Linked DNA regions of Homo sapiens: region 2 is linked to region 1. The links come from fine-mapping of genetic effects on gene expression. A gene starts in region 1. The other region holds a variant in brackets. All regions are shown on one strand. Distances are between the middles of the regions. Region 1 holds the start of MMP2-AS1 (MMP2 antisense RNA 1). Region 2 overlaps MMP2-AS1 (MMP2 antisense RNA 1).

Region 1 (5,000 bases):
TAGCTGGGTGTGGTGGCACACACCTGCAATCCCAGATACTCAAGAGTCTGAGGCAGGAGAATCACTTGAACCCGGGAAGCAGAGGTTGCAGTGAGCCGAGATTACACCACTGCACTCCAGCCTGGCAATACAGCGAGACTCAGTCTCAAAAAAAAAAAAAAAAAAAAAAAGCAGCTCTATGTGACTCCCTCCCTCCCCCTACAAAAAAATAGAGGGTTCAGAGACTCAGTCAACAGCATTTCTGGTTCAACAAGCATCAAAACTAGCTGAGTTCTAGGTCACTGGGGTGGGGCAGAGGAGAGGTCTAAGGACATTTCACACCCTGACACCAGTCTGTCCTTTTCTTGGGGGTTATTTCCAACCACAGACTCCTTTGCAGCCTCAGAATCCCCGAAAGCAGCTCTCCCAGGCCCCACCCAGCTTCCCTCCTGCAGTGCTTATGCCCAGTTCATGCACCAGTCTCCAATCCAGCCATCTCCTCTCACCCCTGGCCCTCAGCTTCATTTGCCTGGGCCTGTGACACCCAAGGTCTTGGAACCCTATTAGGTTGGTGCAAAGGTAATTGTGGTTTTACCATTGAGTAAAACCACATTTACTTTTGCACCAATGTAATAGATGCTGAAAAAACGGCCTTGTTTGGGAGCTCAGGAAAGCAGCTGGCTGAATTCAGAGAGACAGGACTGACTGGGATCCCCACAATCCTCACTCTCCTGGGGAATGGCCCCTCCGAAAAGCACCCTGCAGCCCCCGGGCTGATTTCATTGGGATATGCAGGAAGCCAACCGCTCCTGCTCACAACAACTACTCAGCACTGACTGTGTTTCAGACACCATCCTCAGCATCAGATGAGCAAAATCTAACACTCTCAGATGCCATCTGAGGTGGGCTTACTGAATATCACCCTTGGAAAGATGTGGAATTGTAAAAGAAGAAAAAAGGACCTCCCTTTGCTAGAGTGGGATCTTATTTCCGGCAGCCAAAGAGGCCAGGGCTGAAAAACGCCCAAATGGCCTCTGAAGCAAAATCTCACGATGAAACAAGCCTCAAAAAGCATTTACTAGCATTTCTGGTCATGGCTGTTACGGATGAAATGGTGCCTCACCTTCTGCACCCCCTCTGGCCCCCACACCTTCTATGTTCCTATCTCAGGGATTCTCCACAGGGACCTGGAAGGACAGCTGAGTGGACCGAGAGATCACACGGAGCCACTGTGAGGGGTCAGGGGATAGGGAGAGTGAGCTGCCCAGGGTGGCTGCAGAGAGGGGAGCTTGGGGAACAGAGACCGCAGGGAGAAAGAGCTGAGTGCAGCCTGAGCCCGTGATTTTCAAGCCCCGCCGCTGGCCTCCTAGGGTTCTTGTAATCATACTCCGACTCCCTTCTCCTTAGTTAGTCTAAGGGGGCTTCTGTTTCTTGCTCCCAACTGCTGCCTCACTAAGATAGACTCATTTTCAGATCTCTCTACGGATTGTAGCCTTTCCTGCAATTCCTGCCTGGATGGCTGCTCCTCCAGGCCTGGACTGGATGGAAGGTTCCAAGCGAGAACCTGCAGCATTTCTGCTTCTGCGGCATCATCCACCTCTGAGAACCACTCCAGAGGACAAGCTGAGGAGCCTTCCAAGAGCTCCATGTGTCTGTAAATGCCTTCAAAACCTGGTCTCAGTGCATCCTTTTTGCACCCACAGCCAGATAGCTGACCACACAACATCAGGATAGAGTGGTCACCACCCATTTTCTGTCATGGGAAAGGAAATTGCCCGGGAAAGGCCTTGCCCAGTGCAGACATGGCAGGCAATGCTGAGAGCTACAAAATCCTTCTAGAAGCTGTTGTCTTTCAGTTATTAAGACTATAAGGGCTGGGCATGGTGGCTCACACCTGTAATCCCAGCACTTTGGGAGGCTGAGGTGGGTGGATCACAAGGTCAGGAGTTTGAGACCAGCCTGGCCAACATGGCAAAACCCTGTCTCTGCTAAAAATACAAAAAAAAAAAAAATGCGCATGCCTGTAATCCCAGTTACTTGGGAGACTGAGGCAGGAGAATCGCTTGAACCTGGGAGGTGGAGGTTGCAGTGAGCCGAGATCACGCCACTGCACTCCAGACTGGATGACAAAGCAAGACTCCATCACGGAAAAAAAAAAAAAAAAAAAGAAGGCAGGCTGCCTAGCTTAGCTTTGCCATGACTAATCTACTTACCAGCTAAGCAACATTTGTGCAAGCTATTTCACCTCTGTGTGCCTCAGTTTCTTCATCTATAAAATAGAGATAATCATTTTACACCCCTCAATAAATGTCTTTTGAATCAATTAATGAATACTTGTAAAACACCTGGCATATTGTAAGCCCTTGTTAAATGTAAACTTTAAATGTTAAATGGTTTCTTTCTTTCTTTCTTTCTTTCTTTCTTTCTTTCTTTCTTTCTTTCTTTCTTTTCCTGTTTCTGTTCTCTCTCTCTCTCTTTCCCTCTTTCTCTCTTTCTCTCTTGGAAGGTCTCACTCTGTTGCCCAGGCTGGAGAGCAGTAGTGCAATCATGGCTCACTGCCTACAACCCCACCGTAAGTCCCTCTGGGATTCCATGATAGAGGTACTTATTCCAATTAGGGTCAAGCTGGAGGAAGAGGCGGCTGTGGCCTAGCTGTCAATTCCTCAGGGCTGGTCATTGGGGAGGAAGGGCAGGAACCAGCTGAGTTCACTGAGAGTTGGAACAGGAGACGCAGAAAGGTACAGATTTGGAAACTGACCTGGGTATCACAGTTAGGGCTCCAGGGCACTCCAGCCTGCGGTGGGAGTTTGTAGGTGTCTAAGCTGTGGCTGGGAGGGCAGTGGAAGAAAGTCAAGCTGTGCCAATTTTCCTATTTGAAGAGAAAGGGAGCAGGGGAACCAGAGTTCTAGGTGACACCATCGGGAAGACAAGCTGTGTCCTCAGCCCGGCCTGGGGGGAGGACTGGGTTGCAACTTACAGGAAAGAGGATTGACTGGATTCTTAGAAAAACAAGAGCCAAGGCTTGTTGCTGTGCAGAGGGATTGGGGTCACCAGCTGGCTGTTGTTACCGTGACTGATTCCTGATGCTTCGGAATTCAAGGGCAGGAGGCACTTGGGGCACTGGCTGAACCTTGGCTCCCTGACCCCTCCTCAGTCCCCTTCCTGGGCTCCACAACATATAAGATGAACGTTCTGATTGTCTATTTCTCCTCCCTTCTCGTTTTACTCTTCATTTGGTGGAGTGTATGGTAGGGATAAAATCTTAGAGATGTTTATCTGAGCCATAGAGAGACCTTATTGGGGGTGCATGGGAAATACACAAGTAATCCCAAGCTCACCTTGCCTGGGTGCCTGCGGAGGGCAATTGTGCATTAGCGGTAGAGTGTGGTGGGGACCTGGGCCTGGGTGGGCAGGGGAGAGCTTCTGGACAGGGGCTGGTGGATTAAGGTCATGCCCATAGGTGGGAAGCCACCCACACAGAATCACAGCATCTCAGAAGGGCAGTGCCAGAAAAATCCCCAGGGACCTCATTTTCCTTGGAACACAACCCAATTCCTTGGCTTGGCCAACCAGGCCTAGCGCATCTGGGCCCAACTTCATCTGCCTTCATTCCTCCACTGCATCAGTAGGGTCATTTGGGTGTAGGCCACAGAAGTAAACTCTGGCAACATAAGCGAAGGGGGATTTGTTAGAATAGGATAAGGGAGCCAGGCAACTGGAGCAGACATCAAGGTGGGAACACCAGGCCTCAGGGTCCCGCAGTTGCTGTGCCTGGGCTGCCATTGTTCCATCTGTATCTATGTCACGCGAGGTCATATGAGTGGGCCGGGCACGGTGGCTCACGTCTGTCATCCCAGCACTTTCAGGTGGATCACCTGAGGTCAGGAGTTCGAGACCAGCCTGGCCAACATGGTGAAACCCTGTCTCTACCAAAAATATAAAAATTTGCCAAGCCTGGTGGTGGGCATCTGTAATCCCAGCTACTCAGGAGGCTGAGGCAAGCTAATTGCTTCAACCCAGGAGGCAGAGGTTGCAGTGAGTCGAGGTCATGCCATTGCACTCCAGCCTGGGTGACAAGAGTGAAACTCTGTCTCAAAAAAAAAAAAAAAAAAAAAAAACCATATGAGTGTCCCATTGGCTCAGCCTAGATTACAGCCCCACCCTGGCAGGGTAGTAGGAGGAAGGCTTAGAACTGTCTTGGCTTCTGAAGAGGGCAGGACAGTAACCCAATCCACCTTCCCAGAAACACTGTCCTCAGTGGGGAGGAGGGACAACTCCCAAGGAGATGGGGACACATGCTCGCCAACCAAACCCACAAAAGCTCATTGTGCCTGTCGCTCTGCTCCAGCCACAGTGGCCTTCTTCTGTTCTTCAAATACAAAAAAGCTTGTTCCCACCCCAGGGCCTTTGCACTTGCCATCTGCTCTACCTGGAACACTCTTCCCCTTGTTCTGCATGTGACTGCTTCATTTTCCTCCTTCAGGACTCACACCTAACAAGGGCCTCCAAGAGGCCCTCCCTGACGACCCATTCTCAAGTTGCCCTCATCAGATAATCTTGACCTCATCCCTCCCAGGTCTCCTAGCCATCTAAAATTACCTTGTGTATGAGTCTGTTTGCTCTGTATTGCCTGTCTCCCCACTGGAATGCAAACGCCACAAGAGCAATGACTGCGGTTAATTGCTGCTATATATCCAGCACTCAGCACAGGGCTTAATAAGCATTTACCAGGCAAATAAACATATAGAGACAGAGAGCCCCAGAGGGACGGTGCTTTGGCCGAGGATGCCCAGAGAAAATACTGATGTCATTGAGGGTGCAGAAGCCAAATCTTGCTTGCTCCGGGGGCACTGGATGGCACCAGCCTAAGAGTGTGGGCACCAGAGCAGATTGCCTGGGTCAACACTCACTCTCTGTGTAACCTTGAGTGAGTTTCTTAACTTCTCTGTGCCTTGGTATCCTCATGCATAAAGAGATGACCATAATAATAATGCATTCTCAGGGGCTGTGGCAAGGATCAC
Region 2 (5,520 bases), 35 kb before region 1:
CAAGCACACCCCCACCCTGAGGCCTGTGCAGGGGCTGCTCCCCTACCTGGCCTGAGCCTCCCTGACATCCCCATGGCCCCTTTCTCACTGCAGCTTTCTCAGTTCCCCCAAGGGGAAGACCACCAGCCACTCCCACTCTCTTGCCCACGTCATTATTTTTCAGAATGCTGGTTTCCTAAGGAATCCCCCAGTCACTGCCCTTCCTTCTGTACCCTAGGTCTTTAAGGAGACCAAAATAAGACAAGGAATGAGGACAGGACAGAGCTGCTCACATTCAGTTTATTCCTCCTAGAATCCTTATCAATCAGCCAAGTCACCTCCCTTGGGGCAGAGCAAGGTAAGGGGAATAGAGACATGGAGATCCTCCGGATGCCCCTGTGCATGGAGGAGGGGTCAGGAGTGGTGAAATCCTCAATGCTTCTCACACCTGTCATCATATTATGATAATCTATTGCATGGATGCATCCCTCAGGTCCCTTTTACTTATTCTGTGTGCTCACCCCCAGCCTCTACACACATTTTCCCCTACTCCTCCTTCTCTTTCTCCTTCTCCTTCTCCTTTTTTGGGACAGAGTTTCTCTCTTGTTGCCCAGGCTGGAGTGCAGTGGAATGATCTCAGTTCGCTACAACCTCTGCCTTCCGGGTTCAAGTTATTCTCCTGCCTCAGCCTCCCAAGTAGCTGGGATTATAGGCATGCACCACAACACCTGGTTAATTTTTATATTTTTAGTAGAGATGGAGTTTCACTATGTTGGCCAGGCTGGTCTTGAATTCCTGACCTCAGGTGATCCACCACCCTCGGCCTCCCAAAATGCTGGGTTACAGCCGTGAGCCACCACACCTGGCCCTACGTATTTTACTTCTAAAAGGTTCACACCTGGAACTTCCTTCCTGTGCTGGCCCATGAACCTCTGCAGCTGCTTTGTCCCCATGGCATGCAGAGAGGAGAAAAAGTACCCAAAATTTACTCCCCCTCACCCCTCCAGCCTGTAGCCAATGGATGTGGGAGTATAAAAGCCTGACACCCCTGCTTCAAAGACAGACAGACCCTGAGATGTAATTTATACCCCAGAGCTCTCCACAGGATCAGGCAGAGGTTGGGACTTTGGGAAGCTGCACCTTTGCTGGGCTTCTTCCCCCTCTCTTGCCCTGTTTCCCTATGCCCTTATGGATATCTCCTGGGAGCTCTTTCTTAATAAATTACCTGCACTTCAACCCTTGTCTCAGCATCTTCTTCTGGGAACATAAGACTGAAGGCACTCGCTGTTTGTTGTTTATTTCATTTCCTTACTAGAACATAAGCTCCCAAGGGCAGGAGCTTTTCTGTTTTGTTCAGTTTTGTATTTTCAGCAACAAGAACAGTGCCTCGTATACAGAAGGAGCTCAATAAATACGTATTAAGTGGATGCGTGAATTTGTGAATATATGTCAATTGACAGAAATATACCAGGACCACTTCTAAAGAAGGCTTCCCCTGTTCTGTTTTATGGTCTGCTATGTCCCTCATGACTGAAATCATTCGCAGCACAAAGTAGATGTTCAATGAATATCTATTGATCAACTCCCATAGCCCCTGTCTGCTCTATTTTAGCAACTGTTCTAGGAAAACTGCTAATATATCTGGCCTCTGCCTGGCTTCTCTCCACCTCCCTCTCAGGCCTTTGCACAGAGCAGGTCCTCAGCCTGAGAGGACTGCATTACAGTTTCAGGGCCTACTGGGTGGAGGGACTGCTAGGGCTTAAGGAACAGGAGCAATAGACCCTACTAAGATGGGTGAGGCCTCTGGAAGGCTGTGACAGCCTAAGCTGTTAGGGAGAAGCTTCTGGGCACAACTGGGTCATTGGAAGCCACTAGGAGAATTTGAGGTCGCCTGGGTGGGACAGGGAGGGGTAAACTTCTGGGACAACATTAGATCCAGAGAATGGGGAGCCTCTGGAGGAGGGCAGAACAGAGGGGGAAAGGCAATGCTACTAGTGAGTGTTAGGGCCCACTGGGCAGGGGGATGTTTGCAGGGGAATAGTTGGGCATCCTGGTAAGCAGAAGCCCATGGGGACTGATGGGCCAATGGGGAGGGGAAAATTATAGGGAAATCTTGGGGCTTTGTTTACAGTGGAGGCTTCTGAGGGAAGTGCTAAGTTTCAAAGGTATTAAGGTCAGAAAATGTCAGAAAGTAATAAGGGAAAAGAGGAAATTAAACCAAGTCTGCTCTCTCTCTCTCTCTCTCTCTCTCTCTCTCTCTCTCTCTCCCCCTCTGTCTCTGTCTCTCTTTCTCTCTCTATTGTTCTCCCTCTTACCTTTCTCTGATATTTTTTCCTCTTTGGTGTTGACAAATCACTGTCAGTAAGTGACATTCTCCCTTAAGAAACCTATCTGACACAGAGCACAAGGCGTGATGGTTGTTCATGGATCAGCCAGATTGAATTAAGGTTCAATTTCAGGTTAGAATCAGCTGGAAGAGATGAGACCCCCAAAATAGCAGTGGCTTCAGCAAAACAGAGCTTTA[T/C]TTCTCCCTGGCGGGATCTTCAGGCTGGTGGCCCAGGTTTGGAGCAGCAATCCTCAGGTGCAGGGACCCTGTGCCTTCTGCCTTGCCACTCAGCATCATCACTGCATTTCTCAAGGTGGCTGCTGGGGTGCCAGCCTTTATGGGCAGTTCCAGCCTGCAGGAAGGAGGAAAGTGGAAAGAAAGGTGCATCCGCCTAGTAAGGGTGCTCTCCAGAAGTTGCACACACCACTTCCACATATGCCCATTGACTAGAATACGGTTAAGTCACATGATCACATTTAACTGCCAAAAAACCTGGGGCAATGTAGTGTTTATTCCAGGCAGCCAAGGATCCACTTAAAAGCTAAGGGTGTTTCTTATGAAGGAAGAACTGAAAATACATATTAAGGGACAACAAGCACATAGATTGAGGGAGCCAACCAGGAACATCAGGAGCCTCAGAGAGTCCCTCGAGAGACGAGCTCACATGGTGTGCTGGTATTTATTGCTACATAACAGCTTACCCCTAAATTTGGCAGCCTGAAACAGCAAACATGTTATCTCGTGCAATTTCTGAGGTCAGGGGTCTAGAAGCAGCAGAGCTGGGTGGTGCTTGCTCTCTAGAAAGGCTGCAGTCAAGCTGTCTGCTGAAGCTGAAGTCATCTTAAGCTCAATTGGGGCTAGAAAATCCACTTCCAAACTGACCTCACAGGGTTGTTGCTGGAGGCTTCAGTTCGTTGTCTTGTGGGCCTCTCCATTGGGCTGCTCACAACATAGTAGTTTGCTTTCCTCAGAGCAAGAGATCCAAGGAAGAGAAGAAGGAAAAGAGGAGAGAGAGAGAGAGAGAGAGAGAGAGAGAGAGAGAGAGAGAGAAAGTCATCTAAAATGGAAGCCACAGTCTTTTCTAACCCTTCTGAGAAGAGACACGTCCTCTCATCTGCTGTTTTCTTTTTGGCCACAGAGCCCAATCCTGGCACAATGTGGAGGAGGATATGAATCCCAGGAGGCAGGGATGACTGCAGGCATCTTGGAGGCTGACTACCAACCATGGATAGGTAAATGAGTGCCAGGAGTTAGGAGATCACACCTCGGTAGAGAGAGTTCCTTGAGCCAGGAAGACTATGCACAGGCTCAGGAAGGCTGGCTGGGCCTAAACAGAAGTGGGTCAAAGGTTAAGGAGTATGTCTCAGTCTATTTGGGCTGCCATAGCAAAATGCCATAGACTGGGTAACTCATAAATAGCAGAAACTGATTCCTCACAGTTCTGGAGGCTGGGAAGTCCAAGATCAAGTTACTGGCAGATTGGGTGTCTGGTGGGGGTCCATTCCTCATAGATGGCATCTTCTTGCTGAGTACTCAACATGACAGAAGGGGTGAACAAGCTCCCTGAGGTCTCTTTTATATGGGTACTAATCCCATCCATAAAGGCTCTGCCTTCAAGACCTCGTCACCTCCCAAAGGCCTCACCTCCTCATTTCATCACACTGGGGATGAGGTTTCAACCACTAATTTTTGGTGGGAGGAGACAAATATTTAGACCTTAGCAAAGTACAACAAAATGTTCCTGTGGTTGCTTTCTGATATTCACCCAATCACCCTGAAGGGACAAACCTTTCTACCACTTCAAAGAGGGAGACAATCTTACTAGCATGTAATAATCAGCACTGTTACCCACAGCTCAAGCCCTCACCCTAGAAACAAAGCCAAGACCACTAAGTGGGTAGGTGTCCTGGCTAAGTGTGGACACAGGGCACAATCAGAGATGTGAACACACAAAGAGCTTCACCAGCTTCTCACAGACCCTGCTTGCCTTTCGAAGTGATGAATACACATGGCCTGGTCATTCCAGAGACTAATAAGACCCCTCTGGCCCATTACCTGAAACTGGGGACCCAATACCATGCAGATGGACTGAGTCATTACAAAGGCAATTAAATGCCCAACTCCATAGCCAGGTGCCAACATGTAGGCTTTTGTGCATGGATAACTTAGTTCTTTCAGGAGGGGAAGAATCTTTAGTCTTATTTTCTCTCAAGCCTGGGGTTAATTGGGAAGCCAGCTTCGGTGACTAGTACACAGAGGCTAATTTGTACAACCATTGCTCACAAGTGGGTGGGGGGGATGACGGCAAAAAAAAATAAAAATACAACATTGCTGGAGACAGTCTGCCATTGAATTGGATCTTAATATTCTAGTCCATGAACCAGCGGTTGCACTAGAGCTTGGTTAAAAAAAAAAAAAAAGCAGGAAAAACCCACACACATTCTTTCAATTTCTAAAGGGAAATTTGACTCGGGCTGTAGAACAAAGGACGAAGAAATAGAAGTAAAAGAAAATCAAAGAAAAAGTTATTTGGATTCAAGGGGATCAGATGTTTCATTTATTGCAGGTTGGAGACCTTCAATCAGCCAAATGAAAGGAACATTTGTATTAAAATACCTATGAGGCAGAGAGAAAGCCTTGATCGGGTGCAGCAGAGTTAAGTTACAGCAATCGTGCTGAGAGATATGAACCCACCTTCGAGGTTATCTGTTCCCAATATTGAAGGTTTTCTGTGTTACAAACCTGAGATGAAAGGTAGTTGTTTTGACGTCTGGGTCTGGAAGGCAGACGCTGAAATTAGCAGCATTCTTGATGTGTGTGCAGCAGGAACATGGAGCCCGGGATGGGGTGAAAATGTAGCTGCTTTATTAAAAGGAAACGATGTTAATGCAACACTAAGTGCCCAAGTCACCCATGAGGGTAGGGTGTAGATGGGGATTACAAAAACACCTTCTGAGAAGGGGCAGAGAAGGAGCACTGCACTAGGGGTCTGGGACCAAAGGTATAGCCCCTCCTCTGACCCTGGGTTGGTAGCTCCAAAATAGCTGGGACTTAGCCTGTCTAGTTCACAGTGCCAGGCATATAGGAGGTGTTTGATATATGTCAAACAAATGCATGAATGAATAAATGAATATGAACTTGGGCCTCTTTGGACCTAAGTCTTACAAAATAAGGAGCTGGGACTAACTATGGATTTCTCCAGTGGGATGAATACC

Evidence for each region. PIP is the estimated chance that this variant, and not a neighbour inherited with it, causes the effect.
Region 2: its variant is fine-mapped to the expression of MMP2-AS1 in whole blood (TOPMed, PIP above 0.99). The same link has a PIP of 0.9 or more in esophagus mucosa, ileum, lung, macrophages, monocytes and monocytes after LPS.

The regions. Positions count from the first base shown.
Region 1 is chr16:55,459,438-55,464,437 of GRCh38, forward strand. It overlaps MMP2-AS1 (MMP2 antisense RNA 1), which reads right to left and starts at 2,860. Exons shown (of 7, transcript NR_147198.1): 1 at 2,738-2,860.
Region 2 is chr16:55,424,314-55,429,833 of GRCh38, forward strand. MMP2-AS1 (MMP2 antisense RNA 1) reads right to left here. Exons shown (of 7, transcript NR_147198.1): 5 at 5,048-5,167; 6 at 3,188-3,271; 7 at 2,484-2,657. Among named protein-coding and RNA genes, the nearest start is that of MMP2-AS1, 35 kb to the right of the region's middle. The variant T/C (reference allele first, on the strand shown) is at 2,504.